Homo sapiens: one gene and its partners. The protein of the gene in region 6 purifies or fractionates together with the protein of the main gene of each other region. This does not show direct contact. Each region holds a gene or a part of one and is shown on either strand. Other genes may lie near its edges.

Evidence for each region.
Region 1: the proteins of SLC12A2 (region 6) and NOTCH2 purify together in Homo sapiens (affinity purification with mass spectrometry; one large-scale study listed by BioGRID and IntAct). This does not show direct contact.
Region 2: the proteins of SLC12A2 (region 6) and NDFIP1 purify together in Homo sapiens (affinity purification with mass spectrometry; one large-scale study listed by BioGRID and IntAct). This does not show direct contact.
Region 3: the proteins of SLC12A2 (region 6) and NOTCH3 purify together in Homo sapiens (affinity purification with mass spectrometry; one large-scale study listed by BioGRID and IntAct). This does not show direct contact.
Region 4: the proteins of SLC12A2 (region 6) and TMEM192 purify together in Homo sapiens (affinity purification with mass spectrometry; one large-scale study listed by BioGRID and IntAct). This does not show direct contact.
Region 5: the proteins of SLC12A2 (region 6) and ATP6V1A purify together in Homo sapiens (affinity purification with mass spectrometry; one large-scale study listed by BioGRID and IntAct). This does not show direct contact.
Region 7: the proteins of SLC12A2 (region 6) and GNG12 fractionate together in Homo sapiens (co-fractionation; one large-scale study listed by BioGRID). This does not show direct contact.

Annotation. Positions count from the first base shown.
Region 1 is NC_000001.11:119,915,842-119,920,187, reverse strand, and holds part of NOTCH2 (neurogenic locus notch homolog protein 2 isoform 1 preproprotein), read left to right. Parts: intron 1-574; coding exon 575-876; intron 877-1,634; coding exon 1,635-1,782; intron 1,783-2,425; coding exon 2,426-2,523; intron 2,524-3,493; coding exon 3,494-4,346. UniProt on the Homo sapiens protein: Functions as a receptor for membrane-bound ligands Jagged-1 (JAG1), Jagged-2 (JAG2) and Delta-1 (DLL1) to regulate cell-fate determination.
Region 2 is NC_000005.10:142,132,587-142,136,484, forward strand, and holds part of NDFIP1 (NEDD4 family-interacting protein 1), read left to right. Parts: intron 1-3,143; coding exon 3,144-3,231; intron 3,232-3,898. UniProt on the Homo sapiens protein: Activates HECT domain-containing E3 ubiquitin-protein ligases, including NEDD4 and ITCH, and consequently modulates the stability of their targets. As a result, controls many cellular processes.
Region 3 is NC_000019.10:15,182,869-15,187,496, reverse strand, and holds part of NOTCH3 (neurogenic locus notch homolog protein 3 precursor), read left to right. Parts: intron 1-158; coding exon 159-392; intron 393-508; coding exon 509-619; intron 620-1,817; coding exon 1,818-2,010; intron 2,011-2,088; coding exon 2,089-2,240; intron 2,241-2,477; coding exon 2,478-2,591; intron 2,592-3,046; coding exon 3,047-3,202; intron 3,203-4,628. UniProt on the Homo sapiens protein: Functions as a receptor for membrane-bound ligands Jagged1, Jagged2 and Delta1 to regulate cell-fate determination.
Region 4 is NC_000004.12:165,102,222-165,106,849, reverse strand, and holds part of TMEM192 (transmembrane protein 192), read left to right. Parts: intron 1-3,753; coding exon 3,754-3,900; intron 3,901-4,628.
Region 5 is NC_000003.12:113,753,527-113,758,154, forward strand, and holds part of ATP6V1A (V-type proton ATPase catalytic subunit A), read left to right. Parts: intron 1-4,628. UniProt on the Homo sapiens protein: Catalytic subunit of the V1 complex of vacuolar(H+)-ATPase (V-ATPase), a multisubunit enzyme composed of a peripheral complex (V1) that hydrolyzes ATP and a membrane integral complex (V0) that translocates protons.
Region 6 is NC_000005.10:128,177,139-128,181,766, reverse strand, and holds part of SLC12A2 (solute carrier family 12 member 2), read right to left. Parts: coding exon 4,615-4,628; intron 4,194-4,614; coding exon of another isoform or gene 4,150-4,193; exon of another isoform or gene 4,128-4,149; intron 3,201-4,127; coding exon 3,078-3,200; intron 885-3,077; coding exon 773-884; intron 1-772. UniProt on the Homo sapiens protein: Cation-chloride cotransporter which mediates the electroneutral transport of chloride, potassium and/or sodium ions across the membrane. Plays a vital role in the regulation of ionic balance and cell volume.
Region 7 is NC_000001.11:67,826,555-67,831,182, reverse strand, and holds part of GNG12 (guanine nucleotide-binding protein G(I)/G(S)/G(O) subunit gamma-12), read left to right. Parts: intron 1-4,628. UniProt on the Homo sapiens protein: Guanine nucleotide-binding proteins (G proteins) are involved as a modulator or transducer in various transmembrane signaling systems.

The DNA of each region.
Region 1 (4,346 bases), on a different chromosome or scaffold from region 6:
GCCCATGGTTCCACATTGTTGTCCCTGTGTTTGCCCTGTCCAGTCATAAACCCCTTCCCAATTTCACAGACTCTAAATCAGCTCGAGGAAATGAATGCTTAAGGAATGTAGCCACAAAGAAATTATCAGCTCAGAAAGGGAAGGATTTCACATTGCTTCATGTACAGTGTGTTGAGACTAAACAGGCTGATAAAATGGGTTAGATTGTAGTGGGATAGAAAAATAATATCCCAAAGCAGAGGATAGTTAGTATCTTATGCATGTATTAATTGTTCTATTAATATTAGATATTTTTAAATGTCCAATTAAAATAACAGCACTTAAACTTGAACAGAAAAACGTGTTTAGAGAAGAGCCCCCAGCTTAAAAAGACTTGTACTTTCCCATTATTCTTTACAGAAATGATACTATCAGAGGAAAAGGTGGCAAATGTGAAACTAATAACCAGTTACTACAAGAAGTACAGGGAATTCTTTGCCCCTAAGAATAACTTTAGTCAAATAGAGCTGTTTCAACCATAGGGTTAACTACCTTCTCCTTCTTGAGTACTTTATGGAATTTTCCATTCCTACAGATGGCTGCACCCCATTGATGTTGGCTTCTCTCCGAGGAGGCAGCTCAGATTTGAGTGATGAAGATGAAGATGCAGAGGACTCTTCTGCTAACATCATCACAGACTTGGTCTACCAGGGTGCCAGCCTCCAGGCCCAGACAGACCGGACTGGTGAGATGGCCCTGCACCTTGCAGCCCGCTACTCACGGGCTGATGCTGCCAAGCGTCTCCTGGATGCAGGTGCAGATGCCAATGCCCAGGACAACATGGGCCGCTGTCCACTCCATGCTGCAGTGGCAGCTGATGCCCAAGGTGTCTTCCAGGTAAAGAACATGAGAAGAGTCACTTGAATAATAATTCCTATGGCTCTATAATGTTTTATCGTTTTTAAAGAATTAATATCTCATTGAATTTATTCAATCATTTGAGAGATTAGGGCAGGTATTAGAGTCATGCTTGGTAGATGGGAAAGTGGGAAAAGGGAGGCAGGCAAATTGACCTAGCTATATATAGGAAGATAGTGATAGAGCCAACTGCAGACAACACCAGTCTTTCTGATTATTAGTGATAATTTGTTGTGCCAAGATGCCTCCCAAATGCGTAGATTAGATGAGAGTGATAGCTGGTCCGGAGCCTTTGACTAGTATCCGCTACTTCTTATGGATTGGCCTGACTGTATGGGCTTCTAGCTGCTCATTGGCAGTTTTCTTGACCTGAGTTCATATTATATTCCCTGATGCCTGTTTATCCTTATGAGGAAATTGGAAGCATTCTGAATCACCTTAGGCTGTATCCTGACTGAAGTTGTGATATTTCCCCACATCCCTCTTCTTTCCTGAGAAAGTAGAAGGCTCATCACTTTACATCAGCCATTATTTATTGAGCATGTATTTATTTATTCATGCAACAAATATTTATTGATTGATCATGATAGAATCTTGGGCACAAAGATAACAAGACTTTCCCTCTCCTCCAGGAATCTACACTGTAGCCTCAGCTCTGATGCCCTTGTTTCTTCACTGAGTTTCATTATTTTCCTTCATCCAGGTGACTCTCTTTTCTGTACTTTCTCCTCTTCTAGATTCTGATTCGCAACCGAGTAACTGATCTAGATGCCAGGATGAATGATGGTACTACACCCCTGATCCTGGCTGCCCGCCTGGCTGTGGAGGGAATGGTGGCAGAACTGATCAACTGCCAAGCGGATGTGAATGCAGTGGATGACCATGGTAGGGATGAAAGGCAGGGATTTGGATTCTTACCTGCAAAGCATGCCTCTGACGAGGGGAATAGAGTTACGTGACCCTTAGAGAACTGCCTGAGATCCAAATACGTGAGAGATTCACTCATTCTTTCATTCATGCATTTATTTAACATGCTGAGCTCAGAGATCCAAGCCAGTAGGAGATCCCTAATTAAAATGAGGGATTTTTAATGAGGGTTCTTGGACCTCAGAGCAGATACATGAAAGGTGTTCCCATGTAGTTTCCTAGGCATAACACTTGATTTGAGGATTTATGAGAGCTGACTTCTCTAGGAGAGTTGTAGAATATTCTCAATATAAATTCTGACATGTAATATATAGGTTTTTATCTTCAGTATGTAACAGGGTAGATTCTGCCATGTAGGGGACATGAATGCCTCATACAAGTGATCCTTTCACCTAGAGGTCTTCTGCAGGCTAGGCAGCCTGTACTGAAGTATTTCTAGAACAGAGGAAAAAGAAGAGATTACTTTGGTTTTTCCTATAGACCCCTACAGAGAACTGCTTCCTGCTGATCTCTGGGGAGTTTAAGATTTCATTGTGCAAGTCATAGTGTCTTATACTAAGAGTAGGATATGTCTGTTTATAAAAATGTTTCTCCCCTGCAGGAAAATCTGCTCTTCACTGGGCAGCTGCTGTCAATAATGTGGAGGCAACTCTTTTGTTGTTGAAAAATGGGGCCAACCGAGACATGCAGGACAACAAGGTACAGTTTGTGGGCTCTGAGCTTGAGGAGGCTCATAGCAGTGCCTCAGTTATAAGCCCATTCCCGTTTCTCCTTACAGCTTCTCTTGTTATATGTATAGACAAAGATGGAAGCAGTTTGGGCAGACACTGGGTTTCGAGAGCTTGATGAGGATATTGGGCTTGTCCAGGCATGTGTCAGGATGGAGTTCTCTGCCCTCTCAGTACTCAGCTTGCAGTAGGCTGGCTATAGATAGCTTGGTGTAACTCTTTCTCTTCCCTGACATTTCCTTTTCTCCAGTTGTCTCTTCTGTTCATAATCACTTCTTTTTCTCGTTTTCTTTCTTTTTTCCCTCCGGCTGCTTTTTTTTCTGTCCTTGGATACCCTGATGTTTTCCTGTTTGATTTTTCTCCATCTGAGTTTTTTGTCCTGCTTCCTTCTCTCATTCATCTTCTCTCAGTTTTCTTTGTTTTCCTTATCTTAGTCCTTTCTTGCACATGTTTTGTCTCTTCTTTCACTGTTTCCCTTACTTTTCCCAGTTCTGTGCATGCCTTAGTTTTTTCTCTTCCTACCTTTCTTATTTCTAACTCCTTTTCCTATTATTTCTTATTTCTAACTCCTATTCCTACCTTTCTTATTTCTAACTCCTTTTCCTTAACCTTATTTTGATAAGCTCAGTACTCTTTTAAGTGAGTCTCTGGCTCAGGGGCATGCTTTATTTTATGAATTCCCAACTAAAGAGATGTTCCCCCTAAGGGGCAAAATTGTTTTTTTGAGGAGAGGTGAAATAATCTTACTTTTTTTATGTGTAAATCACAGATACACATTCAGTACATTGGTAGAGGCACAGCCTATCTGTGGTGTTAATATTTCATCGGGGAGATAATTAGGAAAACATGTCTAAGGGGGTGATAATAAAAAAGATTGAGAAAAACTGCTATATTCTCAAGAGTGTTATTAACATGTGTTCTGTGATGGGCCTTTTCTGTAGGAAGAGACACCTCTGTTTCTTGCTGCCCGGGAGGGGAGCTATGAAGCAGCCAAGATCCTGTTAGACCATTTTGCCAATCGAGACATCACAGACCATATGGATCGTCTTCCCCGGGATGTGGCTCGGGATCGCATGCACCATGACATTGTGCGCCTTCTGGATGAATACAATGTGACCCCAAGCCCTCCAGGCACCGTGTTGACTTCTGCTCTCTCACCTGTCATCTGTGGGCCCAACAGATCTTTCCTCAGCCTGAAGCACACCCCAATGGGCAAGAAGTCTAGACGGCCCAGTGCCAAGAGTACCATGCCTACTAGCCTCCCTAACCTTGCCAAGGAGGCAAAGGATGCCAAGGGTAGTAGGAGGAAGAAGTCTCTGAGTGAGAAGGTCCAACTGTCTGAGAGTTCAGTAACTTTATCCCCTGTTGATTCCCTAGAATCTCCTCACACGTATGTTTCCGACACCACATCCTCTCCAATGATTACATCCCCTGGGATCTTACAGGCCTCACCCAACCCTATGTTGGCCACTGCCGCCCCTCCTGCCCCAGTCCATGCCCAGCATGCACTATCTTTTTCTAACCTTCATGAAATGCAGCCTTTGGCACATGGGGCCAGCACTGTGCTTCCCTCAGTGAGCCAGTTGCTATCCCACCACCACATTGTGTCTCCAGGCAGTGGCAGTGCTGGAAGCTTGAGTAGGCTCCATCCAGTCCCAGTCCCAGCAGATTGGATGAACCGCATGGAGGTGAATGAGACCCAGTACAATGAGATGTTTGGTATGGTCCTGGCTCCAGCTGAGGGCACCCATCCTGGCATAGCTCCCCAGAGCAGGCCACCTGAAGGGAAGCACA
Region 2 (3,898 bases), about 14 Mb from region 6:
CCTGGGATGGCTGAAGTATCTTGAAGCAGAAGCACACTAATGTTTCCTTGATTCTGCACACTTAATATTTTGCTGTTGGGTGGATAGCTGCTAGGGAGGTCTAGGAAGAGAATAAATATATGCAAATTTGTAGAATTAAACTCATAAGAGGGATCTTCACATTGATTTAGATGAACTCCGTTCTTCCAGCAGTCCAGATCATGTCATTTGTGGGGACATAGTGAGTTCAGATTCCATCTAGCCTGATGTTGATTCATGGAGGTGGAGATTGGGATGCCATATAAACCAGTGGAGATTATTGGGCACTCTTGGTTCTTGATGTCAGATATGTGAGTGCTGCATTTGTCATTTTGTAAATATTCATCCAGATTGAGGCTGATGAAGGTAGGGCATTGTGGGAGAATGGAAGCAGGATAAGTCCCCAGAAATGCGGGGACCATCAGGCCTCTAGGCTCTATTCTAGCAAGTAACTGGAGTGAGTGATGAGCAAGTACAGAAGCCTAGTCTGGGCAGTGTGATGGCATAGGCCCAGATGTTCCCCTCTTGGCTTTAAGATAGTAGACAGTTTGCAGACCACACCTACTGTGAGGAGCGAAGCTCCTAAAATCATTGCTTGGTAGAAATAGTTTATGAGCCCAATCTAGGATGATCCTAAATGGCGATGATGTGCATTCAGTTCTTACAGGTACCAGGGAGAAACTAAAAACCCTAGTGTCTAAGGGCAAGACCATCATAATGTAACTGCCGTATATTGGAAGCAAACCACATGCTTGGTACTGTGCTTGATGCTTTTATATATTTTGTATATTGTTTCCAATCTTCATAGTAACCTTGAAAGGTAGAGATTATATTATCTCCATTTTACAGATGTGAAAATTTAGGTCCAGAGAGAAAAAGTAATTTTCCCAAAGTCATATGACTGATAAGTAGCAGAAGTGAAAGTCAAACCCAGATATTCTAGAATCCAAAGTCCTTGTTTGTTTCACTGTACTCTGCAGATCTGTTGCAATATATGGTAAATAGATCAGTATGGAAATTAGCTCTGATTAATCACATAACTCTTCAGAATACTTTCATTTGATACAAGTACATATTTAGGAACTTCTTAAAGGGCTCTAGTATTCAGCAGACATGTATAAAGCACTTTTTAAATATAAGATGCAGTATATTTTACAGTGGATAGGTAAAAAGCTTTGTATAAGGCAGTGTTCCTCATTGTTATTCAAAAGCCTAAAATCCAACTAGGGTAAAGGGCCCACAAATACTGATAACTAAGACACATAAGAGCAGTGGGCATCAAGAACTGAAACTTTTTACTGGGTGATCATAGGGGAAAATGAGATTTGATGTGGGCCCGGAGTTTTGATGGGTAAGAACATTCCAGAGGGAAAAAGGCACAGAAAGCAGGTGTGAATTCAGCCAGGTGAAGGCAGTTCTGTGGATGTAGTAATTGGCTTTGTATGAGCAAGAGTTTGTGAAGGGAGATAGAAAGTCCTGACTACAACTGTTGTTTATAGAATCTTTGGAATGTTAGATGGGCGTATTTAAACTTCATATGTAGCTTTTAGAGAATCCTTCAGAGTTTTTGAGCAGGGGTATGAGAGGACTTGTGTGGTGTTTTGGAAACATTAACTTGGCAGCAATTTCTAGGATGCATCATGGTAGAAGAGATACCAAGAGGACAGGAAGAACAGTTAGAAGGTGTTCGTAATATTATTAGATGTTACTTCCATATATTTTTTGGAGTATATCTTTGAATAGTTATGCAAAAAACAATTAGCTTTTAATTTTGGCAAAACCTTATTCTGCTGATACGAAGTAAGAATACTAGGTATTTAATGTTTTAAAAAATTAATTATAAAAATTCGTTTTTATAGAAATTTCAAACAATAGAGGAAGTATGTTAAGTTAGAAAAGGAAGCTGCCATTGCCACCGACTTCCCTTTCTCTAGTTCCCACTCCCCAGGGGAACCACTGTTAACAATTTGGGTCTTCCAGACCCTTTTCTGTGTACAACAAGTTTTGATATTCCCTAAAATATTTTTCATTTAAGGAGCCCTCATTGAACTGTGTACAAATCTATCACTTTTAAGTATATATTCAATTATTTTTAAATATCTCAACACACACCTATATCAGTTAAAAAGATAGCCCACATGTGTTGGTATTGTTCATGATCATGTTATTTCTAGTTTTGCAATATTACGTTATCAAGTTAGGATGGAAAAGATCTTATCTGCTGATAAGGTTAGAAGTGAGATTTAGATCTGTATACCAATACAAATACATGCTTATGGAGTTGAGCAGTGGGCAGTTCTGTGGACTATTCATGTATGATCGTACTATTCTTTTTTCCCCTATATCAGCCTCGTAAAGCACTTGAGCTGGTTGATTTTATCTTTTTTTTTTTGAGACGGAGTCTCACTCTGTTGCCCAGGCTGGAGTGCAGTGGTGGGATCTTGGCTCACTGCAAGCTCTGCCTCCCGGGTTCATGCCATTCTCCTGCCTTAGCCTCCCGAGTAGCTGGGACTACAGGTGCCCGCCACCACTCCCGGCTAATTTTTTTGTATTTTTAGTAGAGACGGGTTTCACCATGTTAGCCAGGATGGTCTCGATCTCCTGACCTCGTGATCTGCCTGCCTTGGCCTCCCAAAGTGCTGGGATTACAGGCATGAGCCACTGCACCTGGCTGATTTTATCTCTAATTACTAATATTTTAGGTCCTAAACAGGTCCTCGATTACTGATATTCTAGAATTTAAACCAAATGTGTAAGTAAATTTTGTCTTTTGTCTTTTCTTGAGGTATATTTTTTTAAAGGAAGAGTAAATAGTTCTTTGTGAACTATTCTTGAAGTGTATTGTTTTTGAAGTGTATTAAATTTTTGAAGTGTATTGTTAAAGAACTTGGGTTATAAGATGAAAATTTCATTTAGAACACTGGGGATAGAAGAAAGATTTGCTTCTTTTCTAATTATATATTAATAATGCAAAATGGAATTTTAAACACACATTGAGCCTTTAATGCTCATAATTTTGAACTGAACCAAAGCAATAACTTTTTTCCTTGCTACTCAAATTTAACCCTTCATTTTTCTTTATGTCTTCCCTTTGCCTAGAAATAATTCTTTTTCTTTTCATTTAGGATGAGGATTTTGTGGGTCGGGATGATTTTGATGATGCTGACCAGCTGAGGATAGGAAATGATGGGATTTTCATGTTAACTTTTTTCAGTAAGTATGTATGCATATCAGAACCACCCCCTACAAACTAGAGTGCTTTGGATTATGGGTGAATCTGACTGAATTAAAATAACTAGTTGAGCTAATATATTAATACATTATGTTTATTTGGTGCCTTTTACTGGAATATTCAAAGCTTAATATACCTTTGTTTTAATATCCCTTCTCTTTGCCTTCTATTTTCATGAATATCTGTGGAAAATATAATTAAAGCAGTTATGAGGATGCTGCATTTTTACATGAGCTAAGCCTCATCTTCCAGGTCTACGGGGCCCTTTTGCGTTGCTTCTACTCATACTTAATCTGTAGAATAGGAATTAAATGCCTTTGATGAATTTTGCTCTGAAAGCTTCTTTTTTCTGACAGATCAAAGTCAGCCTGATTTTCTCCCTTCATGTTACTTGCCATTTATCTTTTTGTGTGCCTCACATAGAAGTGAGCAACCATTTCCTTTATTTGTTGTATTAGAAAGATAAGAAAATGCAATGCTTTTAGAGGTGATGTTATATAAGTTGTCAAAATTCAGAGAACAGGAGGATGAGTGACTTGAATCAGATTATTTGGGGGCACTTATTTAATGTTGAAGGCATTTATTTTATTTACTGGACTATATATATATAACACACACAGTAAAAAGCAGAGGTCAGGCTGGGCATGG
Region 3 (4,628 bases), on a different chromosome or scaffold from region 6:
AGTAAGTGGGGGGTGGGGGGTGGGGCCTGTATTGAGCTCGCCTCCTGACAGCTTGATGGGCAGGGCCTCAGATAGAGCTGAACCAGGATTGGTCCGAGGCCTCACTTGTGGGCAGGCCCCTGGCAAGTGGGCGGAGCCTGACCCTCTTGGCCCCACAGGCTTTGAGGGCACGCTGTGTGATCGCAACGTGGACGACTGCTCCCCTGACCCATGCCACCATGGTCGCTGCGTGGATGGCATCGCCAGCTTCTCATGTGCCTGTGCTCCTGGCTACACGGGCACACGCTGCGAGAGCCAGGTGGACGAATGCCGCAGCCAGCCCTGCCGCCATGGCGGCAAATGCCTAGACCTGGTGGACAAGTACCTCTGCCGCTGCCCTTCTGGGACCACAGGTGGGACCGGGGGCTGGGGCAGAAACAGCACACCTGGAGGGGCACAGAGGGTTTGGGAATGGTGCATCTAGTGGGGCACAGTGGTGGCCACTCCATGCCATGTTCCTGGCCCCTAGGTGTGAACTGCGAAGTGAACATTGACGACTGTGCCAGCAACCCCTGCACCTTTGGAGTCTGCCGTGATGGCATCAACCGCTACGACTGTGTCTGCCAACCTGGCTTCACAGGTGGGCAAGTGGCTGCCATGAGAGGGGGTCCTTAGATCGAGGGTGAAGTCACTCGTCTCTGTGGGCCTGTTTTGCCCGTATCTTTGCAGACTCTTGTCCAACGAGGTTGTCCGTGCTTTGCCCTGAGTCTGTGCTGTCTCATTGGCATAAGGTTGTTTCGAGATTATTCTGCAGGCTGGGCGCGGTGGCTCACGCCTGTAATCCCAGCGCTCTGGGAGGCCAAGGCAAGTGGATCACTTGAGGTCAGGAGTTCGAGACCAGCGTGGCCAACGTTGCGAAGCCCCATCTCTACTAAAAATACAAAAATTAGTCGGGTGTGGTGGTGGGCGCCTGTAGTCCTAGCTACTCGGGAGGCTGAGGCAGGAGAATTGCTTGACCTCAGGAGGCGGAGGCGGCAGTGAGCCAAGATTGTGCCACTGTACTCCAGTCTGGGCGACAGAGTGAGACTTCATTTCAAACACACACACACACACACACACACACACACACACACACACATACAAAAACAAACAAAAAGATTATTCTGGAACATAGATGAAAGTGTCCAAACTCAGTGACTAGGTTATTTCTGAATGGGTCTAAACTAATCCTTAGTGGAAATGAATGTGACTTTGCTAGGTGTGTTGGCTCATGTCTGTAATCCCCCAGCACTTTGGGAGGCTGAGACATGAGGATCACTTGAGCCCAGGAGTTCGAGACTAGCCTGGGCAACATAATGAAACCCTGTCTCTACAAAAAATAAACACACTCCCAAAGCCAGATTAGTCAATACGTAGATAAACACGCACACACATGCACACACAATTAGCCAGACGTGGTGGTGCGCAACTGTAGTCCCAGCCACTCGGGAGGCTGAGGTGGGAGAATCGCTTGAGCCCAGGAAGTGGAGGCTGTGGTGAGCTATGATCATGCCACTGCAGTCCAGCCCGGGCGACAGAGTGAGACCCCATCTCAAAAAATAAGAAGAAGAAGAAAAGAAAAAGAAAGGGACTTCATGGAAGTTTGGGGACCAGAATGATCTGGGGCAAGTCAGCTCTTGGTTGAGGAGGCGGGTGTCCTAATCTGCACAAGAGCTGATGCGTTATGAAAAAGAGGTCATTGCTCGGGGGTGTGGGTGTGCTAAGTGGGGTCACGTCGTCCCTCCCTGGTTGTCCCTGCTGACTTTGTTCTGAGATGAGATTGCTTGTGTACTCCCCAGGGCCCCTTTGTAACGTGGAGATCAATGAGTGTGCTTCCAGCCCATGCGGCGAGGGAGGTTCCTGTGTGGATGGGGAAAATGGCTTCCGCTGCCTCTGCCCGCCTGGCTCCTTGCCCCCACTCTGCCTCCCCCCGAGCCATCCCTGTGCCCATGAGCCCTGCAGTCACGGCATCTGCTATGATGCACCTGGCGGGTGAGGGCCCTTCTCAGCCTCAGACACTGCCCCCTCTCCCTGGCCCACCTCCCTGGCCTGACTACCTTCCCCTGCCAGGTTCCGCTGTGTGTGTGAGCCTGGCTGGAGTGGCCCCCGCTGCAGCCAGAGCCTGGCCCGAGACGCCTGTGAGTCCCAGCCGTGCAGGGCCGGTGGGACATGCAGCAGCGATGGAATGGGTTTCCACTGCACCTGCCCGCCTGGTGTCCAGGGTGTGTACCTCACCTTCCCTCTGCAGCCCCACCAACACCATGGGCCTTCTCATCTCTCTTCTCCTCTACTCTCTCCTCCCGCTATGTTAGCTTCTTTTTTGCTTTCAATCATTTCCCTCCAGGAGCTTGGGAGGTGGGTATCAAGGTGGGGACCCTGGGGTTGGGGGAGGTGGGGGGAGATGGGATCAGGGAGTCCCTCAAGGCTATCTCTGCTTCCCTCTCTTCCACCCCCAACAGGACGTCAGTGTGAACTCCTCTCCCCCTGCACCCCGAACCCCTGTGAGCATGGGGGCCGCTGCGAGTCTGCCCCTGGCCAGCTGCCTGTCTGCTCCTGCCCCCAGGGCTGGCAAGGTATGCCACCTGCTTCTCTTCCCTCCTCCTCTCCATCTCCTCTGCCCCCTACCCTATCAGGGATGATGCTGGGGATCCAGAGAGGGACCCATCCCCAGCCCTGCCTTTGAGAGGGGCTTCCTTCTTGGAAGGACAGAGCTGGACACTGATATGCAGCCTGTGTGGGTCAGCCCTTGGAAGAGGAAGAGTTATGGGGCTAGAGATGCTGGGACTTAGGGCGGGGTTTAGGGTACAGCTTCCTGGAGGAGCAGACCTCATAGTAGGTATTTGCCACCTACTGAGACAGGGAGACGGCCATTCTGAAACTGCATATGCAAAATGCCCAGACACGAATGACAGCACGGCTTATTTTGCCTTCACCCATCTCGGCCTGCAGGTTCTTCCTGAGCCCCAGGTCCCTGAGACCCTGCTCTGTACCCTGTAACCCTAGGTGTAACCTTGCTCCCTACCCCCAGGCCCACGATGCCAGCAGGATGTGGACGAGTGTGCTGGCCCCGCACCCTGTGGCCCTCATGGTATCTGCACCAACCTGGCAGGGAGTTTCAGCTGCACCTGCCATGGAGGGTACACTGGCCCTTCCTGCGATCAGGACATCAATGACTGTGACCCCAGTGAGTGCAGGGGAGCTCTTGGGGGTGCTGCTCTGGGGAACACAGTCATTAAGCTTGAACTGTGTGCCTGGCACTGTGCTGTCATTTCATCTTCACAGTTATCTTACTTTTCCCGTTTTATTTATATGGAAACTGAGGCCCGAGGAGGTTGAGTGACTTCTTGTGCAAGCCCATGGAACGAGTTAGGGAATGAGCTGGGCTTAGAACCTTGGAGTCTGTGTGCTGCCTCTTTTTTTTTTTTTTTTTTTTTTTTTTTTGAGACAGAGTCTTAGCTCTGTCGCTGGAGTGCAGTGTTGCAATCATCGCTCACTGCAACCTCTGCCTTCTGGGCTCAAGCACCTCAGCCTCCCCAGTGGCTGCGACTATAGGCGCACACCACAGCGCCCAGCTAATATTTTGTGTTTTTTGTAGAGACGGAGTTTCGCCATGTTGCCCACGGTGGTCTCCAATTCCTGGGCTCAAGCAATCTACCTGTCTCCACCTCCCAAAGTGCTGGGATTACAGGCGTGAGCAACCACACCCGACCTAAGTGCACTGTCTTTGAGAGCAATCGAGTTAATATCATGTGCAAAGTATGAGATAAAAGGCCCCCCAGAGGCCGGGCGAGGTGGCTCACACCTGTAATCTCAGCACTTTGGGAGGCCAAGGTGGGCGGATCACCTGAGGTCAGGAGTTTGAGACCAGCCTGGCCAACATGGAGAAACCCCATCTCTACTAAAAATACAAAATTAGCAGGGCATGGTGGCGCATGCCTGTAATCCCAGCTACTTGGGAGGCTGAGGCAGGAGAATCACTTGAACCTTGGAGGTGGAGATTACGGTGAGCTGAGATTGTGTCATTGTACTGCAGCCTGGGCAACAAGGCATAACTCCGTCTCAAAAACGAACAAACAAACAAACAAACAAACAAAAAGGGGTGCTGCCAAACAGATAAATAACACAAGCCACATATGCAATTTTAAATTTTCTAGTAGCCACATTAAAAAATAAACAGAAATGGGAGATATTAAATTTAATATTTTATATTTATTTATTTATTATGTATTCAGAGTGAGGCTCTGTCGCCCAGGCTGGAGTGCAGTGGTGCGATCTTGGCTCAGTGCAGTCTCGAACTCCTGGGCTGAGGCATTCCTCCTGTCTTAACCTCCTGAGTAGCTAGGATTACAGGCACTCACTACATGCCTAGCTAATATTTTTATTTTAATTCTGTAGAGATGGGGTCTCACTGCGTTGTCTAGGCTGGTCTCAAACTCCTGGCCTCAAGCCATCCTCCTGCCTTGGACTCTCAGACTGCTGCCACTGTGCCTGACCAAATTTAATATATTTAAATTTAATTTATTGAATGTATATAATCGGCTGGGCGCAGTGGCTCACACCGGTAATCCCAGCACTTTGGGAGGCTGAGGCAGGTGGATCACCTGAGGTCA
Region 4 (4,628 bases), on a different chromosome or scaffold from region 6:
ATTACACAGTGAAGTCCCATGATAGGCCACCTGCAAGCTGGGGAAAGGGAAGGTGGTAGTGGCTCAGTCCAAGTTCAAAAGCCTCAAAACCAGGGAAGCCAACAGCGCAGCCTTCAGTCGGCAGCCGAAGGCCTGAGAGCCCCAGGCAAGCTGCTGGTGCAGGTTTCAGAGTCCAAAGGCCGAAGAATCTGGAGTCTGATGTCCAAAGGCAGGAATTAAGGAGGCAAGCATCTGACGCAGGAAAGAGAGAGCCAGAAAACTCAGCAAGCTGCTTATACGCCTATTCTGTGCTTTGTTCTAGCTGCATTGGCAGCTGATTGGATGGTGCTTGCCCATATTGAGGGTGGGTCTTCCTCTCCCAGTCCACTGACTCAAATGTTTGGCTCCTCACAGACGATACTTTGCCATCCATTTGACACTTAATATTGACCATCATAGGGAGCTACCCAAAGTTTTTGAGGAGAGAAACACGAATGTTTGTCTTGGAGCAGTGAAAGAGATTGCCAAGACCAGAAGACTGGAAGCTTCTAATAAAAGGCCATGAGAAATGGGAGGGCCTGGACTAAGATAGTGAGAATAGAGAGGAAATAACAGGTTTAGGAGTTAGAATGGTAATGATTTTTTCTCTTTTTATCATGCCCCAGCACTGAGTGGATAGAATGGTAATGATTATAGGGGTAGTGTCTTTGTTTGGGTTGCTATAGTAAAATACAAATAGGGTAATTTACAAATAGAAATGTATTGACCACAGTTCTAGAGGACAGGAAGTCCAAGATTAAGGCAGCCACGGATTCAGGAAGCCCAAGATCAAGGTGCCAAGAGCCCTGGGGAGGGGTTGCTCTCTGCTTCAAAGATGGCGCCTTCTTGCTGCATCCTCACGCAGTGGAAGGTGGAAGGGAGCTCATTCAAGCCTCTTTTATAAGGGCACTGATCTCATTTATGAGGGGGGGAACCCTCATGGCTTAATTACTTCCCAAAGGAAAGCAGGGAACTATTGGGGGACACCAACATTTAGACCATAGCGGGGTGCAAGTCAAAAGTAAGAGTTAATAAAAAGGCCAAGTGTGGTGGCTCACACCTGTAATCCTAGCACACTGGGAGTGCACTTGGGAGGATTGCTTGAGGCTAAGAGTTCAAGACCAACCTGGCCAACATAGCGAGACCCTGTTGATTTTTATTTTAAAATTTAAAAAATATTAAAAAGAGAAAAGAGTTAATAAAGAAATAATAGTGGCTAATACTTATTGAGTGCTCTCTGTGCGTCAGGCAGTGTCATGAGGACTTGCATGTGTAGTGACTCATTTAGTATTCCTGACAGAGCTACGAAGCAGGTGCTATTATTAGTCTCCTTTTTAGATGTGGAAACTGAGGCATGAGAGATGAAGTAACTTGCTCTCAGCTAGAAAGCGGTAAAACTTGTGCTTGAATCCAGGCAGTTTGCCCTTAGGAGCCTGACCTTAACCACAGCTCTTACTGCCTTTGGTCACAGTTGATCCCCCGTATGTCCTGATAATCTCTTCTAATTAGCCCAGGTCTTTGATGATGCCCATAATTGAATTAGAAAATACTGCAGAAACAGGTTTGGGGCACTCATTCATTCATCTAGCAAATGTTTGCTGAGTGACAACCATGAGATAGTGTTGAGTGCTGGGATTACAAAGACAAGAGGTGTAAAGGTAATGGGTCCAATGACGTCTAGTGGAGAAGAGATAAGTAAGAGACCATCACAGGATAGTTTGATAGAAGAGGCAAGCACAGAATGCTTTGAAAAACATGGAGGGTGGCACAATCCAGATTAGGGGTATCCAGAAAGGCCCTGTGGTGGGAATTGCCCCTTCTGAGCATGAAAGAATGCACAGACATTAGCTAAGGGAAGAGCAGATCTCAAGGCTCCAACATCTGCTGACTGAGAATGAGCTAGAGGCAGAGGGGTCTTGAAGAGAACAGGAGTAATCTGAATTGTACCATGAGTTATGGTAAACTAAACAGGAAGCAATCTAGGCATTGAATAAAAGACTTGGCCAGGCGCGGTGGCTCATGCCTGTAATCCCAGCACTTTGGGAGGCTGAGGCAGGCGGATCACCTGGGGTTGGGAGTTTGAGACCAGTTTGGCTAACATGGCGAAACCCCATCTCTACTAAAAATACAAAAATTAGCCGGGCATAGTGGCGCGTGCCTTTAATCCTAGCTACTCAGGAGGCTGAGACAGGAGAATCGATTGAACCCAGGGGGCAGAAGTTGCAATGAGCCGAGATTGAGCCACTGCACTCCAGCCTCGGCGACAGAGCGAGATTCCATCTCAAAAACAAACAAACAAACAAAACAACAAAAACAGTTGCAGAGCAGTGTTGAATACCTGCTACTGGAAATTGAGGAGCCCACTCCAGAGCTAGGTTACACCCTAGATTACTGTCCTTATCTTTGTAATCTTAGCAATCAACAGCCATCTCTTACATCATTTGTCCTACTACCTACTTCCAAAATAAAGAGCTCTCATTCTGTGTAGCCAAAACCTATTCATGAATCCTTCATTTCTGTCTCATTGTAGTGCAGTTAGCTGACCTAAATTTTTTGGCATTGTCTTCTATGCTTTTCATTTGCTGATTTGTTATGTGCTTCCCATGAACCATATTCTTTTTTTCTTTTTTTTAACATGTGATGAGAACACTTAAGATCTACACTCTTAGCAAATTAAAAGTATATACAATGCAGTATATATCCATATTTTTGAGACGAAGTCTCTCTGTCGCCCAGGCTGGAGTGCAGTGGCGCAATCTCGGCTCACTGCAACCTCCACCTCCTGGGTCCAAGTGATTCTCCTGCCTCAGCCTCCCGAGTAGCTGGAATTGCAGCTTGCGGCCAAGAGTTCAAGACTAGCCTGGGGCCGGGCACTGTGGCTAATGCCTGTAATCCCACCACTTTGGGAGGCCGAGGTGGGTAGATCACCTGAGGTCAGGAGTTTGAGACCAGCATGGCCAACACAGTGAAACCCTCCCTCTACTGAAAATACAAAAATTAGCTGGATGTGTGCCGGGCACGGTGGCTCATGCCTGTAATCCCAGCACTTTGGGAGGCCGAGGCAGGCGGATCACCTGAGGTCAGGAGTTCGCGACCAGCCTGACCAACATAGAGAAACCCCATCTCTACTAAAAATTAAAAATAAAAAATTAGCCGGGTGTGGTGGTGCATGCCTGTAATCCCAGCTACCCCAGGAGGCTGAGGCAGGAGAATTGCTGGAACCCGGGAGGTGGAGGTTTCGGCGAGCCAAGGTTGTGCCAGTGCACTCCAGCCTGGGCAACAAGAGTGAAACTCTATCTCAAAAAAAAAAAAAAAAAAAATTAGCTGGGTGTGGTGGTGCACACCTGTAGTCCCAGCTACTCAGGAGGCTGAGGCAGGAGAATTGCTCGAACCTGGGAGGCAGAGGTTGCAGTGAGCCAAGATTGCGCCGCTGCACTCCAGCCTGGGCAACAGAGCGAGACTGTCTCAAAAACAAAAAACAAAACACAAACAAACAAGACCAGCCTGGGCAACATAGTGAGACCGTGTTGCTACAGTTTTTAAAAAATTAATTAATTTTTTAATTAATTAAATTAAATTAATAATTAATTTTTAAAAAATTGGATTCAGGTAGGCAATGTGTTCTCTTGCCTTTAATTTGTATGTGGTTAAAAAGCTCTGTAGTTTAGTAGATTTGTCTTAGAAACATAATCTAGAAAGTGGTGATTATAGGTTGCTTGTTTTTCTGCACCCCAGGGTTCCTTGGATATCACCCAGAGTATTGAAGACGACCCACTTCTGGATGCCCAGCTTCTCCCACACCACTCATTACAAGCTCACTTTAGACCCCGATTCCATCCTCTTCCTACAGTCATCATAGTGAATCTTCTGTGGTTTATTCATGTAAGTTGGCTGCAAGAAGGGGACCTATCCAGAGGTGATGTTTGTAAAAATTATATAAGTGTTTCAGAGGGCAGTTGTGCTGTATCTATCAACATTTAAAATGTAGGGCACATGTTCTTAGGACATCCTGAGTGCTGTGTCATGGGCAAAAAAAAAAAAAAAAAAGTACGTACACTTTTACTTATATCTTCAAATAATTCATTGTGGATATATTTGCACACATGTAAAGATATTGTTGATAATAGCCATGTTGTCTGTCATATCAAGAGACTACAAACTACCTGGCTACTTGGCATCCAGAAGACACTGTGTGTCCCATTCATATAAGGAAATGCTATGCAACTGTTAAGAATGGGGTGGATAGGTATACAGTATATTAACATAGAATAGCCTTCATGATTACATTGTCGAGTGAAAAAAAATCAAGTTTTCAACCTTGTGTACAGAATGTTCCTATCTGCAGTTTTTAAAAGGGAGTTGAGAGGGCTGTTGTGGACCTGTTTTCCTGTATATAATAGAATATTTCTAGAAGCATTCACAGACCTAGTTGCCTCTGAAATGAGGACTGAGGGTCTTGGTGGAAGAGACACTAATATAATTTACTGTTTACTTTTGAATACTACTTGATTTTTTAACCATGTGCTTGTATTACTTTTTCAGTTACAAAAAAGATGCAGAAAAGTCTACATATGTTGACACAGGAATTTATCAATTTACTTATACCTAGG
Region 5 (4,628 bases), on a different chromosome or scaffold from region 6:
AAAAACGTGGAAACAAAGGGAATGCCTGTTAATAGGGGTATTGTTATGTAAATTATGGCCGAGGCATTTTATGGAATGTTGTGAAGTGATTAAATGGTAGGAGTTAAATCTACTGGTGATTAGAAAGGATTTCCAAGTACATTCTGAAAGGATTTCTATCATGTGTCTTTTTTTTTTTTTTTTTCCTGAGACAGGATCTTGCTCTGTTACCCAGATTGGAGTGTACTGGTGCTGTCTTGGCTCACTGCAACTTCCTCCTCTTAGGTTTAAGCTATCCTCCCGCCTCAGCCTCCAGAGTAGCTGGGGCTACAGGTGTGCACCACCACACCTGGCTAATTTTTTGTATATTTGGTAGAGACGGGGTTTCACCTTATTGCCCAGGCCATCATGTATCTTAAGAAAAAAAAATACAAAGTACAGAGAAACATTTGTAATGATAACTCATTTTTTATAAAACCAGTTGAAAAACACCATGAGTTTTGTATATTTTTACCTGGTTGTCACCGTTGGAAAGAGGAAATAAGCAGAAAAGGAAAGAGACAGAATATCCATAGTAACATATTTATATAAAACTACATGTTTGTACATGTCTGTGTATATGATGGATTATGGGAAACAATGGGCACTAAGATGATTTACTTTCTTCCTTACACTTTACATTATATGTTTTTATTTTTACAGTGGACATGAAGTGTTTCTGTAATTAGGAAAAACAGGCTGGGCATGGTGGCTCACGCCTGTAATCCCAGCACTTTGGGAGGCTGAGGCAGGTAGATCGCTTGAGCCCGGTGTTGGAGACCATCCTGGGCAACATGGCAAGACCCCCCTCTACCAGTAAAAACTAAAAATTAAAAAAATTATTTGGGCACGATGGCATGCACCTGTAGTCCCAGCTACTCAAGAGGCTGAGGTGGGAGGATCACTTGATCCCGGGGCATTCAAGGTTTCAGTGAACTGCGAATGTGCCACTGCACTCCAGCCTGGGCGTCAGAGCGACACCCTGTCTCAAAAGTAAGAAAAAAAAAAAGAAAAGAAAAATGTACCAAAAAATGATAGGGACTACTAGATAGGATTACAAATTTGGCATGTTATTTTTGGTATGGATAGTCAGTGCTATCGACACGCTTTCTGCCTTAGAGTGTAGAGCACATTGCACAAGTGTGGGATCTGTCACCTGACTTAATCATATGACAGAATCATAAGAAAAGTCCCTATTTGGGTTTTGGCATATAAACTGGATTACAAGATTAACTTGCCTTAAGAAAACTTTAAACAAGAACTTCTTTAAAGAAGCAAAATAAAAAGTACTTATAATTGTTTAATACTTGATTTCTGTCCTTTTAAAAGTATCTCCGTAGAATACATCATTCAAAGCCTAGACAGAAAATAGCAGATGCTTTAGAGTTGGATTTGTTGCATACTTAAAGTAGCTGTATTTTTTTCTCACATTGGTATTACTTCCCCTTTTCATTACCAGTTTTATTAATTGCATATATGTGCTTTAATGTAAGCTGTCCAAAGTTTTTTTTACAAGAGTTGGGATATATGTAAATAAAAATAATTTTAGAGTAGTATTAATATAACAAAGAGATGAAGGAAACCAGACTGTGTGAGTCAAATCCTGGCTCTGCTTCCTAGTGGTGTGACTTTGGAGGAGTTACTTGTGTCTTTTTGCATTGCATTTTTCTCAACTTTAAAATAAGGATAATAAGAGTATTTAACTTCATTGGATGTTGTGAATAATAGAAGCGATTGGAATAATAACTAGCACATAAGGACCGTATATATATTTGCCAGCTGGGTGCAGTGGCTCACACCTGTAATCCCAGCACTTTGGGAGGCCGATGCAGGCGGATTGCTTGAGCCCAGGAATTGAAGGGCAACATGGCAAAACCATGTCTGTACAAAAAAAAAAAAAAAAAAAATTAGCCAGGCGTGGTGGCACACACATCTAGTTCCCGCTATTCGGGAGGCTGAGGTGGGAGGATTGCTTGAGCCTGGGAGGCAGAGGTTGCAGTGAGCTGAGATCGTGCCACTGCAGACCCTGGGTGACAGAGCCAGACCCTGTCTCAGAAAAATATATATGTAATAATAATATGTGCTATTATTTGCTCAGTCAATTAGGTGCAATATATAATAGTTTTACTTGGCTCAGTTGTTTTAACATTCATTTACTCATCCAACAATATTTTTAATTCAGTTGAATGGGTAATACATGTACAAATATGGTAAAATTTATATATTCATACAAGTGTGTTTTCTCTCCCCTCATCCTTATTCTTTTCTTCCCCCATATATTTATCCACAAATGGTAGCACCTCTTCGTATTATTCTGGACCTTACATTTTTCGCTTGAGTATTACGTTGGAGATCTTTTCACATTGATACAGTTAAAACTGCCTCATTCTTTTTAATGATAGTTTAGTATTCAATTGTATTAATATACCCTCATCATCATATGTAACATTTATTGAGAGCTTACTCCTGATCCAAATGCTTTCTTAATACTTTAGTTTTATTAACTCATGGAAGCCTCATAACAACCTATGAGATAGGCACTATTTTTCTATATTTAACAAATGAGGAAAACTAGGCACGGGATGATTAAATGTCCAACAGTCACACAGTTTATAAGTGGTAGGGCTCAGGATTAGAGCCCAGGGAGTCACTTTCCAGAGATTGCTGCCATAATACCGCTAAACATGTAGCCTGTCATAGTATTACAAGGTATTTAACCAGCCTCCATATTAATGGACATTCCAATCTTTTGCTTAAGAAACAGTGCTATAGTTAATATTTTGTTAATAGAACATTTTGTACATCTACAATAAATTCCTAGAAATGGACTAGCCATGTCAAAGGTAAGTACAATTTGAATTTTGGTGGGCACTGCCAAATTGCTCTCCAATTTAGGGATGTTCAGAAGTTCACCTTTGTCCTTAGTAATTTGCCAAAATCTGCCATTTAGCTTGGGTCTTTGGAAGGTGTGCTTTTAACATTTCTAGCATCCCTGAATTGTGTGTGATCTACCATCATGTAATAGCTTAAGTTACTATCATATGGAATTAATGTAACAATGTCAGTATGAGAGGTGTGACCTTTGGACTTACTACTTTCAAATAACAGTAAGTATTTTAGATATAACTTGAAATACTCCTTAATGTGATTTATACATTGAAATTCTATCAATCGAAGTTTGAATAGATATTGTTGAAAAAGTAAAATGCTGTAATTGTTAATAATTGTGAAGTTGCTGATTTTATGTACCAAAGCAATTATGTAAGAGTGTTCAAATAGTTAAATAGTGAATCAGATTGCATTTGAACATTAAGAGTGTGGTAGCTAGCTAAATAGAGGAATAGCTGGGTCCTTTCTTGTGAAAAGTGAGTTTTTGATAATCCGTGAGTCCTAGTCGTAGGTAATGCAAAATGAGGTAGCGAGGAGCTTTATTTAGATGAGTTATAAAATCCACAAATTATTTTGAATATAACACACTTGGTTTCAGTGCCCAATATTTCACTTGTTCAAGAAAGGAAAAAGTATCTCTATGAATCTAAGAAGCAGATTGACTGACACCAAACTCTTCAATGTGATCCAAAATAGACACTTAAAATACAGAATCTTCTCAGGTCCCAACGTAGTATACCTGCAGTGCCTGAATATGGCCCTGTAGTACCTGCTTATTGTACAGTGGGGCGTGTGTGTGTGTTTTAAATATCACCTCATTCTCCCTAAGGTACTCTACTGGGTATAGGGACAGCTTGGAAAGTAGCTGTAAATAGAGATAAACAGGCTGTCAGAAACAGTTATTTATTGTGAGCTAATTCTACCTCAGAGTAGTATAAAGCAACAGAAAATAACTTTCCCTATACCTCCACCCTCCAAATGAGCCATTGAGCCATATCAACTTTGATGTCCAAATTATTAGAGCTTAATCTGAGTCTTGGACAACAAACCCTTCTATGCCTCATGGCACGAAAGTGTGTTCAAGATGGAGTTAATATTTTCCTAAATTCTCATTCAACATATTGTAAGCTGATATGCCATTAGCCCCATTCTGAAAATATAGATGAATAAAGTACTTAAGAGGCATATCTGACTTCTACACTCCTGAGCTATTAAGTGACTGTGGAAATTCCCAGAATTAGTTAAACTTGGCAGGACCAGAGAGTGCCCACACAGCCTTATCCAGAGCCACATATATTTATTCTAAATAGACAGACAAAAAACTGGTTTGGCTAAGTTTTCATCTGTTGCCCCTATGCTGTTTCTAGGGTTAAAATTCTCTTAACAAATTTGCATAGGTCAAATAGTCCTTTAGAAATACTATATTAGTTGGCTGGGCCTGGTGGCTCACGCCTGTAATCCCAGCACTTTGGGAGGCCAAGGTGGGTGGATCACGAGGTCAAGAGATTGAGACCATCCTGGCCAACATGGTGAAACCCCATCTCTACTGAAAATACAAAAATTAGCTGGGCGTGGTGGTGTGCACCTGTAGTCCCAGCTACTCAGGAGGCTGAGGGAGGAGAATCACTTGAACCTAGGAGGCAGAGGTTGCAGTGAGCTGAGATCACACCCACTGCACTCCAGCCTGGCGATAGAGTGAGACTCTGTCTCAAAAAAAGAAA
Region 6 (4,628 bases):
AGTGTACTGAAACACTGGGGGAAACAGAAGAATAGAAAGGGAATGAGAGGACAGACTGTCAAGGGCCTTGACTGCTACATTATAACAATTAGATTTTCTATGGCAGGTAGCAGAGAAGTCGTTTAACTATTTTGGGTAGAGGAATCATATGGTCAAAACTCTGCTTTCTGAAAAATAAAACTGGGTTTCAATGCTTCTGAGTACCCATGTCTTACCTTTGACCCATAATGTGTACAATATACATATTAATTAGGTTGAAGATTATGCATATTATGTACTCTGTACAATATACATGTTACAGGTCAAAGACAAAACAAGAGTACTTAGAGAGCAGGAGAGAAATACTGAAACAAGAACTAGAATCGTGACAGTATAGATGGAAAGAATTGGATGGATGACAATGGCATCCTGCATTTTGTTGTCTAGAAGTCTACAACAAAATTTATCTCATATATAAATATGTAACGTTTGTGCATTTTCTCCCTGATTAAAAGAAAGAAGTTGCTTAACACTTTAATGTTACAAGTATTTAAGAAGGACCTTCTAAAATGCTAGTATGTTAAAAAAAATTATATCTAAGTAAAATTAAGTATTTACTAGTTAAACATGAAGACTAAAGAGAACAAGGTTATATTTAAAATTTTTAACTTCAGTAAAGAACAAAGCAAGATAATAGACATTTTCTGGATTGTCTAATTTTTATCCTATCAAATTTATACTGTAGCAATGAAGTGCTAATAGATTCATGCCCTTCAATGTGAAATAAACTTACGCTCTCCGGTCATGGTCTATTCTGTTTATCTTTCCACCAATGAATACTCTGATCTTACAGTCTTTCCATTTTTTCTTGGTCGTCAGAAGGTAAGGTATCAATAAGGTCAAACCTGAATTATAAAAATGTAATAAATCATTTACTAAATGCAAATTTCTTAATCAGGAACATCAATTTAGTCTCGAAAAACATGTTTACTACAACTCCATATGAAACAAAAATCTTTCTGTCCTTCCTTGATAATTCAGTCAAAAAGCCATTAGCAGACCTGAGAAACAAGGGACTCCTAACGGAGTCTGATCCCATTCAAGGAAGGTAGCCAAATGGGATAGTGGCCTGGTAAGGTCGAGATCAGTCACATACAACAGGATTGAGAAAATAAGTATAATTATTGACCTTAGCAGGAGCCATGTTTAACACTGAAATTAGAAATATGAAAAGGGAGAAGCTGGACTGAAATTGCTTTTTGATCTCCATTTATATCTCCACAGACACACACACAAGGAGTTCCTGGCTCTGTCCATGGAGAAGGCCTGGGAGCAGTGACACTCCAGTAGACACAAGCATATCCAATGCCCTGATCTTTGTTTCTAAACACTATGATTCAGTAAAAGGAACCAGCATTCCTTGGAAAGGGTTACTTTCGTGGCTGTGAAGGGAAAGTGCAAAACAATAAAACTGAGCCTGGAACATCTTCTTGTATTAGAAAATAACCCAAAAGAATGGGCTGGGCGTGGTGGCTCACACCTGTAATCCCAGCACTTTGGGAGGCCGAGGTGGGTGGATCACGAGGTCAGGAGATCGAGACCATCCTGGCTAACACGATGAAACCCCATCTCTACTAAAAATACTAAAAAATTAGCTGGGCATGGTGGCAGGTGCCTGTAGTCCCAGCTACTCGGGAGGCTGAGGCAGGAGAATGGTGTGAACCCGGGAGGCGGAGCTTTCAGTGGGCCGAGATTGCGCCACTGTACTCCAGCCTGGGTGGCAGAAAAAGACTCAGTCGCAAAAAAAAAAAAAAAAAAAAAAAAAAAAAAAAAAAAAAAGGAACGATTGGGACATGATAAATGGAAACAAATGAGCCTAAGGAGGATTCTGCTGGCGAAATATAGGACAATTGGAACATCAAAACAAATGAAAGTAACAAATTATATCCTGGAATAGTTCGGATATCAGCCCCTACCCAAATCTCACGGTGAACTGTAATTAATCCCCAGTGCTGGAGGTGGAGCTTAGTGGGAGGTGTTTGGATCATGGGGGTCAGTCCCTCAAGGTTTGGTGCTTGTCTTTGTGATAGTTCTCATGAGACCGGGTGATTTAAAAGTGTGTGGCATCTCTGTCTCCTCTCTATGACTCTCTCACTCTTGCTTTCATCATGTGATGTGCCTGTTCCTGCTTTGCCTTCTGCCATAAGTAAAAGCTCCCTGAGGCTTCTCTAGAAGCTGAGTGATGTCAGGACCATGCTTGTGTGGTCTGCAGAATCATCAGCAGATTAAACCTCTTTTCTTTAGAAACTACCCAGTCTCAGGTATTCCTTCAAAGCAACACAAGAACAGTCTAATACATATCCCACTGAATATCAATAAAATAGGAATCAATGAGTCCACACTGACAGAAATAAAGAGCTCTTCCTTACAATAAAATGCCAACTAATAAATGAGGAAGAAATGATGGAATAGGAGAATCATCATTTGGCAACCACAACAATAACAATACATTCAGGCAGAAACATCAATGGATCCTAAAGATAGTGGTGAAGGCTGCAAGAATAGTGTATTTACATAGTCTCAGAGTAATCCCTCTGTGCCATCCCCAATACCTGTAATTATAAAAGGGGGTGGGGTAACTTTTCAGTGAATACATGTGGTGAAAATCATATATTACTCAATGGTTAATTTCACCAGTGAAGGTACAAATCAACATCCTGTGCCACCTGATGAGATGTAGACAGAAGAGCACAGCATCACTTCTGTGATATTTCTGCCAAAGGTAGATAACCTAAAACTAATTATAATAAAACATTAACTAGCACTTCAAATTGGGTTACAGTCAACAAAATGGTTCATATTAAAAAAAAGTTAAGGTCATGAAGCTCAAGGAAATACTACTGAACAACCTCCGCATTAGGGATACTGAAGAGACCAGACAACTAAAGGCTGTGCCTGATTCTGAAATTAATCCTTTTGCTTTTGGGAATGCTGGCAAAATTTGAATGGGGTCCACAGGTAAAGAGTGCATGTCATTTCTTACTATTCTCACAATGTCAGTAAATTTAAAATCATTTTAAAAAAATTAACAACCTTACCTCCATCATCAAAAAGCCACCAGACATCAATAGTATTCTTTCCTTGTTTTTTCTGAAACTGTGTACTAGCTTCAAGAAGCTTTTGGTCAGCTACATTTAAAGGCACAATAGGGCCTTTGGATTCTAAAGGATTAAGCAAAATATAAAATGTAAGCAAAGTAAATATTAAAGTCCCTTTTGCTGAATTCCTATCATTTCCTAATGTTTGTATATTCAGATGTTTATACTACAGATAATTCAGACAATTGTATACGGCATCTACCATAAACTTTCAGTTGTTTATAATAAAAGTATACTTTATAAATGGCTAGAGAGAAATAACTCTTTACAATAGCTAAACCAATCCAAATTATCTGCCTACTTACTAATATTTTCAAGCATTCTGAATGAATGTAAGAGAATCATAAATAACAATAAAAAAAATTACAGTGAGCTGCTAGATTTTGTTTTGAAAAGCTGTTTTAGTCAAACTGGACAAATCAAGTTTATACCTGTTCTGTGAAACTATTTCTTTGGTAATCTGGTATCTCAATAATTTAAAGCTCAAAACTTTTTAAAAGACAAAGTTGTTATCTGCAATATAAATGAAAGATGGGAGTTGAAGACATACTAACACATTCTTACAATTATCACAGTGAAACCTTAGTCTAAGGAAAGACTTCTCATTTTTACCTATGTTTTGTCCCCAATATGTGGCACCCAATTCTAAAGCCATATAACCACATCTTTCTCTGAACCACAGAAAGATGGTGGGAGCTCCTTCAAAGGGCACCCATCTGCTGCAGGTCTGAGAACAATACACCAAGGAGTTCCCATTTATATTCCCAGGAGTTAAAACAAAACAAAAAACAGCATTGATTCTGTGAGCAAGCAAATGACTATCATGAAACTCCTACACCAAAATTTTAAAAGCAGAAATCCATACGAGGACATCTGATCACTTCTGTAGAATGTCACTTTTCATGCTGCTGTGATATATGCAAACATGACAAATGATTTTGCACGATGAAATAATATGGCTACCAAACCACACTGCTCCATAACTCTCACCTCTATCTCCTTCTCATAAAATTCATGTATGTTGACATGACTGTGTATCTCCCAAACGCAGCACGACTGTGAGAAATATTGTAATTTTTGAAATGAAAAATACATTAGTATCAAAATTGAGGACTTGGCTGGGTACAACTGATGGTAAAGAATGCAAGTGACACTGCAAATAAAACCTATTTCAGTGTCCCTACTTATCATCTAAACCATGCAGTTTAAATTAAAAAAAATTAATACCGGCTGTCTGGGTCTAATATTTCAGAAATGCTGTGATAATAGAAAAGAATTTGTGATATAACTCCATTTCCTGAGAATATTTAACTTTTTAGTTAGACTAATAATAATTTTTCTAATCTGCATTTATAGAACTGTAACATTACCTCACCATGGAAATAAAAACCAAGGTTAAAAAAAAGGGAATAAGGTTGGAGTTAAAGAGTTTACAGTATGAAAAAGGGTTTAAAATAAAATGATGAAAAATGCCTGCCTTTTTTCAACAGT
Region 7 (4,628 bases), on a different chromosome or scaffold from region 6:
CAGCTTAAGCTTAACCTAGGAAGGCAAGTTGTGAAAGCAAGTAAATTTTTCTGAGCCCTAACTTGGAAGAGAAGCTTGTTTAACAGTGATTTGGGGTGTTGGCTTTGGAGTCAGACAGACTTAGATGAAAATATTAGCTATTTAACCTTTTTCAGTCTGATTTATAAGATGGGGATAATAATGGTCTCTATCTGTAGGGCTTTACAGAAAGTATATGAAAACTTTGTCTTTGGAAAACACTTAAACTGGACTTAACACGCAGTACATGGTCAAAATTATTAGATATTTATCTAGCTTGTTCAAGCAGCAGGCTACTGGATAAATTGCAGGGTGGCAGCTTGAACCTTCCGGAAATGCTAGATAGAGCAATTTCAAATTCTACAGAAAGTAACTGGTGTGTGTGTGTTTGTGTGTGTGTATGTGTGATGTTTCTACCACAGCAATATGAATAATTATGATTAAAGGATTAATAGTTTTAATATGCTTTTAGTGCTAAAGTTACAGTTGCATAGTAATTTTGACAGTCAGAAACATTGCATTATCCTTTACATTTAAAGAGAATTTATATTTCAAATAGTTGTGTTTATTAGCCCTAGGTAAGAAATTAAGCCAGGAACAGAAGTATTCATCTTTAACCAAGTGTAATTCTTAATCAAAGTATGAAAACATGTGACCCAAGGGTATCCGGTTATTTACTTTTGCATGTGCTGATGTCCAAGGCCAACAGATAAGCCATAAGAAGTGTTAGGCTGATTGTGAGTCGTTGTTTTATTTGTAAACTTTCATGAGATTGGGTGTTCAGTTAATTCAGGAAATCTACTCATCACATTGTTGACTCATTTCCTAAAATCTAAAAAATTTTTTAAATGCCTTCATCTTGCCAGGCGCTGTGGCTCACACCTATAATCCCAGCACTTTGGGAGGCCAAGGTGGGCGGATCACCTGAGGTCGGGAGTTCAAGACCAGCCTGACCCACATGGAGAAACCCCATCTCTACTAAAAATACAAAATAAACCAGGCGTGATGGCGCATGCCTGAAGTCCCAGCTACTCGGGATGCTGAGGCAGGAGAATCACTTGAACCCAGGAGGCGGAGGTTGCGGTGAATCGAGATCGTGCCATTGCACTCCAGCCTGGGCAACAAGAGCAAAAACTCTGTCTCAAAAAAAAAAAAAAAAAAAGCCTCCATCTTTAAAACAAACCCTTTAAAGCTTCTTGTTTTTGTCCTAATGCACGTCAGGTGCACAGAATTGGGCTGAACCAGGATCTTAGCTCATGCCACAGATGATTTCTCATTTTACTAATTGCTCCACTGGGACACAGAGATGTGGTTTATAATAATTTTAAATAACTATAAAGGGTACAGTGTGATTATTAATTGTTTCTTGCCTATGACATTATGCTCTGAAACAACTGAAGCATTTGATTGAGTAAATTATTGATTCGTTTCACTCCTAGAACATAACATAATGATTTCTGGCTCATACTTCTAGGTGAGTAGACTGTGAGCAAGTTACTTAATCTATGCTTCAATAAGTGTTGTGAGGAATAAATGAGCTAATCTATGTATATAGCATTTGGAATAGTGCCTGGTGCATAGTCCACATTCAATAAATGTTAACATTAAATTATTGAAATTTTCTCTAAATGTTGTATAATGAGCATGCATTATTTTTGTAACAGGAAAACAGCTATACAAAATTTTAATATTTCCCCCAAATCTAAAAAAAGCTCAGTAATTTAAATAGTCCTGCCAAATAGTACTTAAAAAGTAAGAGAATTAGACAATCATCATTTTGTCTTTTAAATGTGAAATGGTTTGCAATATTAATTTGTTAAACAAGTTAATTCTTCCAAATCTCAATTCCATTTTCTTTTTTATTAGAGACTTTAAAAAATCAGTAATACATGAAGTCTGTTACAGTTTAAAATGGGGAAAAGCAGTATGCACAGTTACATTGTGTTATTACAATTACAGCTAGCTTAAAAATTATTTTTAAACCATAAGAAAAGCCTAGAAGAAAATACAGACAAATTGGTGATGGGATTATGGTGCTCTCCCACCCCCAACCTGCTTTTCCCCTATTTTCCACAATGCGCCTATATATATACTAAAATATAATTCATTTGTGTAATAGTTACTAAACAAATCTGGTTTATTAACTACAAATACTAAAAAAAATTTGCGTAATAGTTACTAAAAAACAAATCTGGCTTGTTAACTACAAATAGCAGGATTTTATTGTTGTTTTGGAAAAAGCACCAACTTTATGGCAGTTGAATGTCCTTCGGTTAAATGTCAAAACCTTTGCAGTGAGAATTGTTTAGCGGTAAAAGAGAAGGCCTTTCAGAAGCTTGTAGTTTGATCTTCATGAAGAATATTTGAAAAGTCTACCAGTGGGTTTTTAGGATCTGCATATAGACCTAGTCCACCAACCTTGACTTTATGGAAGTTGTGACTTCCCAGATCCAGGCCTGCCTTGATGAGCTGCGTTTTTACAGCACCTTCAGTATATCAGACACCTGGAAGACAGTAATGAGGCAGATATTGGTGCACTTAGTTTAACAGGAAGGTTGGATAGATAAAAACTAATTACAGCACAATTGTATATATTATATATCCTGAGCCCTTTCTAAACTCTTCCCGTATACAGTCTTGCTCAGTTGTCACAACAGCCCAGAGGAGGAAGCTGAGGTTCCTTAAAGGTCTGAACCTTGCTCAAGTTGCAAGGACAGAATTTGACCCAGAAGCATCTTAACTCCACATCTCATGCCCTCTGCACGGAGATGGAGGTGCATCCAGCCAGAGGTGAGAGTGAAGTGGGCTTTATGGAGTCAGTTTTGCTTAAAAACTATAAAACTAATCAAGAGAAACATGAGGAGGAGACTCCTTTTAGGTGACCTTCCTGAGGAGAATCATCAGTGCCTCTCCATCAGGCTTGCCACTCTTTAGCCATAGCAGTTAACACTTCCAAATGGCTGCTGAGACCCAGCAGGCCTGAAGCGCACACAAAGGCCCAGTCCTTGGTGACCCTGTGAAGCCTACCTCTTTCATCCCTGGACTTCCAAAGGGGGTCTGGATAGTACAGATGAAGGAACTGACTCGCTAAATCCTGTTCTAGAACCAGCACATACCCACAGATCCTGACCTCCCCACTTTCCTCCCTTAGGAATGACAGGAGAGTAGTTAACAGGTAGCATGGATCCAGGGCAGATGGTGGAGGTGACTTGACTTAAGATAACTTGTAGCTAGATTATTCCATTTATTGGAGAGTCTCTCTTGAAAATCATATCTGATGTCACTTAAGTGTTTGGTTTATCATGTTAGTCTTTATTGGGTGTCGTAAAAGTGCTCAGTTGTGAAGTGTCTGGTTACCATCCTGTGACAAGGAGGGTTTTTGTCTTCTTTTAATGGGTCTGCATTTCAGAGAATTACTGTATAATAAAAACTGGAGTGTTGGCTGGGTGCAGTCGCTCACGCCTGTAATCCCAGCACTTTGGGAGGCCGAGGCGGGTGGATCACAAGGTCAGGAGAGCGAGACCATCCTGGCTAACATGATGAAACCCCGTCTCTACTAAAAATACAAAAAATTAGCCGGGCGTGGTGGCGGTCGCCTGTAGTCCCAGCTACTTGGAAGGCTGAGGCAGGAAAATGGCGTGAACCTGGGAGGCAGAGCTTGCAGTGAGCCGAGATCGTGCCACTGTACTCAAGCCTGGGCAACAGAGCAAGATGCCATCTTAAAAAAATAAAAAAAAAAACTGGAGTGTTGGAGACTGTTAAGAATTAATACTTTCAGTTCTGCCAGAGGGTTAGTATCTAGAAGTTCTAAGAGATTGGTTGCTAAAATCTTCTGTAATTTTCAGTTTCATTGATTGTATAATAAGTGGGTGACTTTGGGCCCAGAGAGTCAGAAGGCTTTGTATTCTGTATGCTTTCTGACACAGTAGGCCACCACTCCCCTTGCAGGCAAGGTCATGTAATTGACATAGGATCCCCTTTAGTTGACCGAAGAGAGAAGTATAAGCTCTGGTTGAACTTGAGTTTGCGTGATCACACATGCTCACTGGAGTGAAGTCTGAATCAGTTGCCATCTCTGCACTTGCATTGTGTGTAGAGAATTGTCTTGATTCAGAATGGCTTTGTGCAAACTCACATGAGCCCATTGGAGGCAGAATCTTAACTTCATTGATGTGAAATAATCAGGCTTTTATTTAGCTTCAGATGGCACTAGCCAAGACGTCCTTGACCACTGGACACTAAACCCTTAACTCCCCACTGGGACCCTTTGACTCAGACCCCAAGCTTGCAGTTACCTCAAATTTTGTGTTGTTTTGGGGGGATAAATTATTGCAGAGGAAAAACATAAGGTTTTTTCTCAAATGAAGACTCAAACTGAAATCCATTAAATCCCAACATGAGCTAAATCTAAGGGTGGAAAGAGGAATCAAAATCTAAAAGCCTCTTGGACTTTATTGAGGCTTATTGAAGACCTTATTGAGATAACATCATCATACCAAGTTTAACCAGAATCTCAGGCAAATTAGAAAGGTGTAACCTTTAGACTAGGTGCCTGAGCTGTGCCTAGACTAATGAAATCTTCTGAATTATTAGACCATGGCCTGCACATT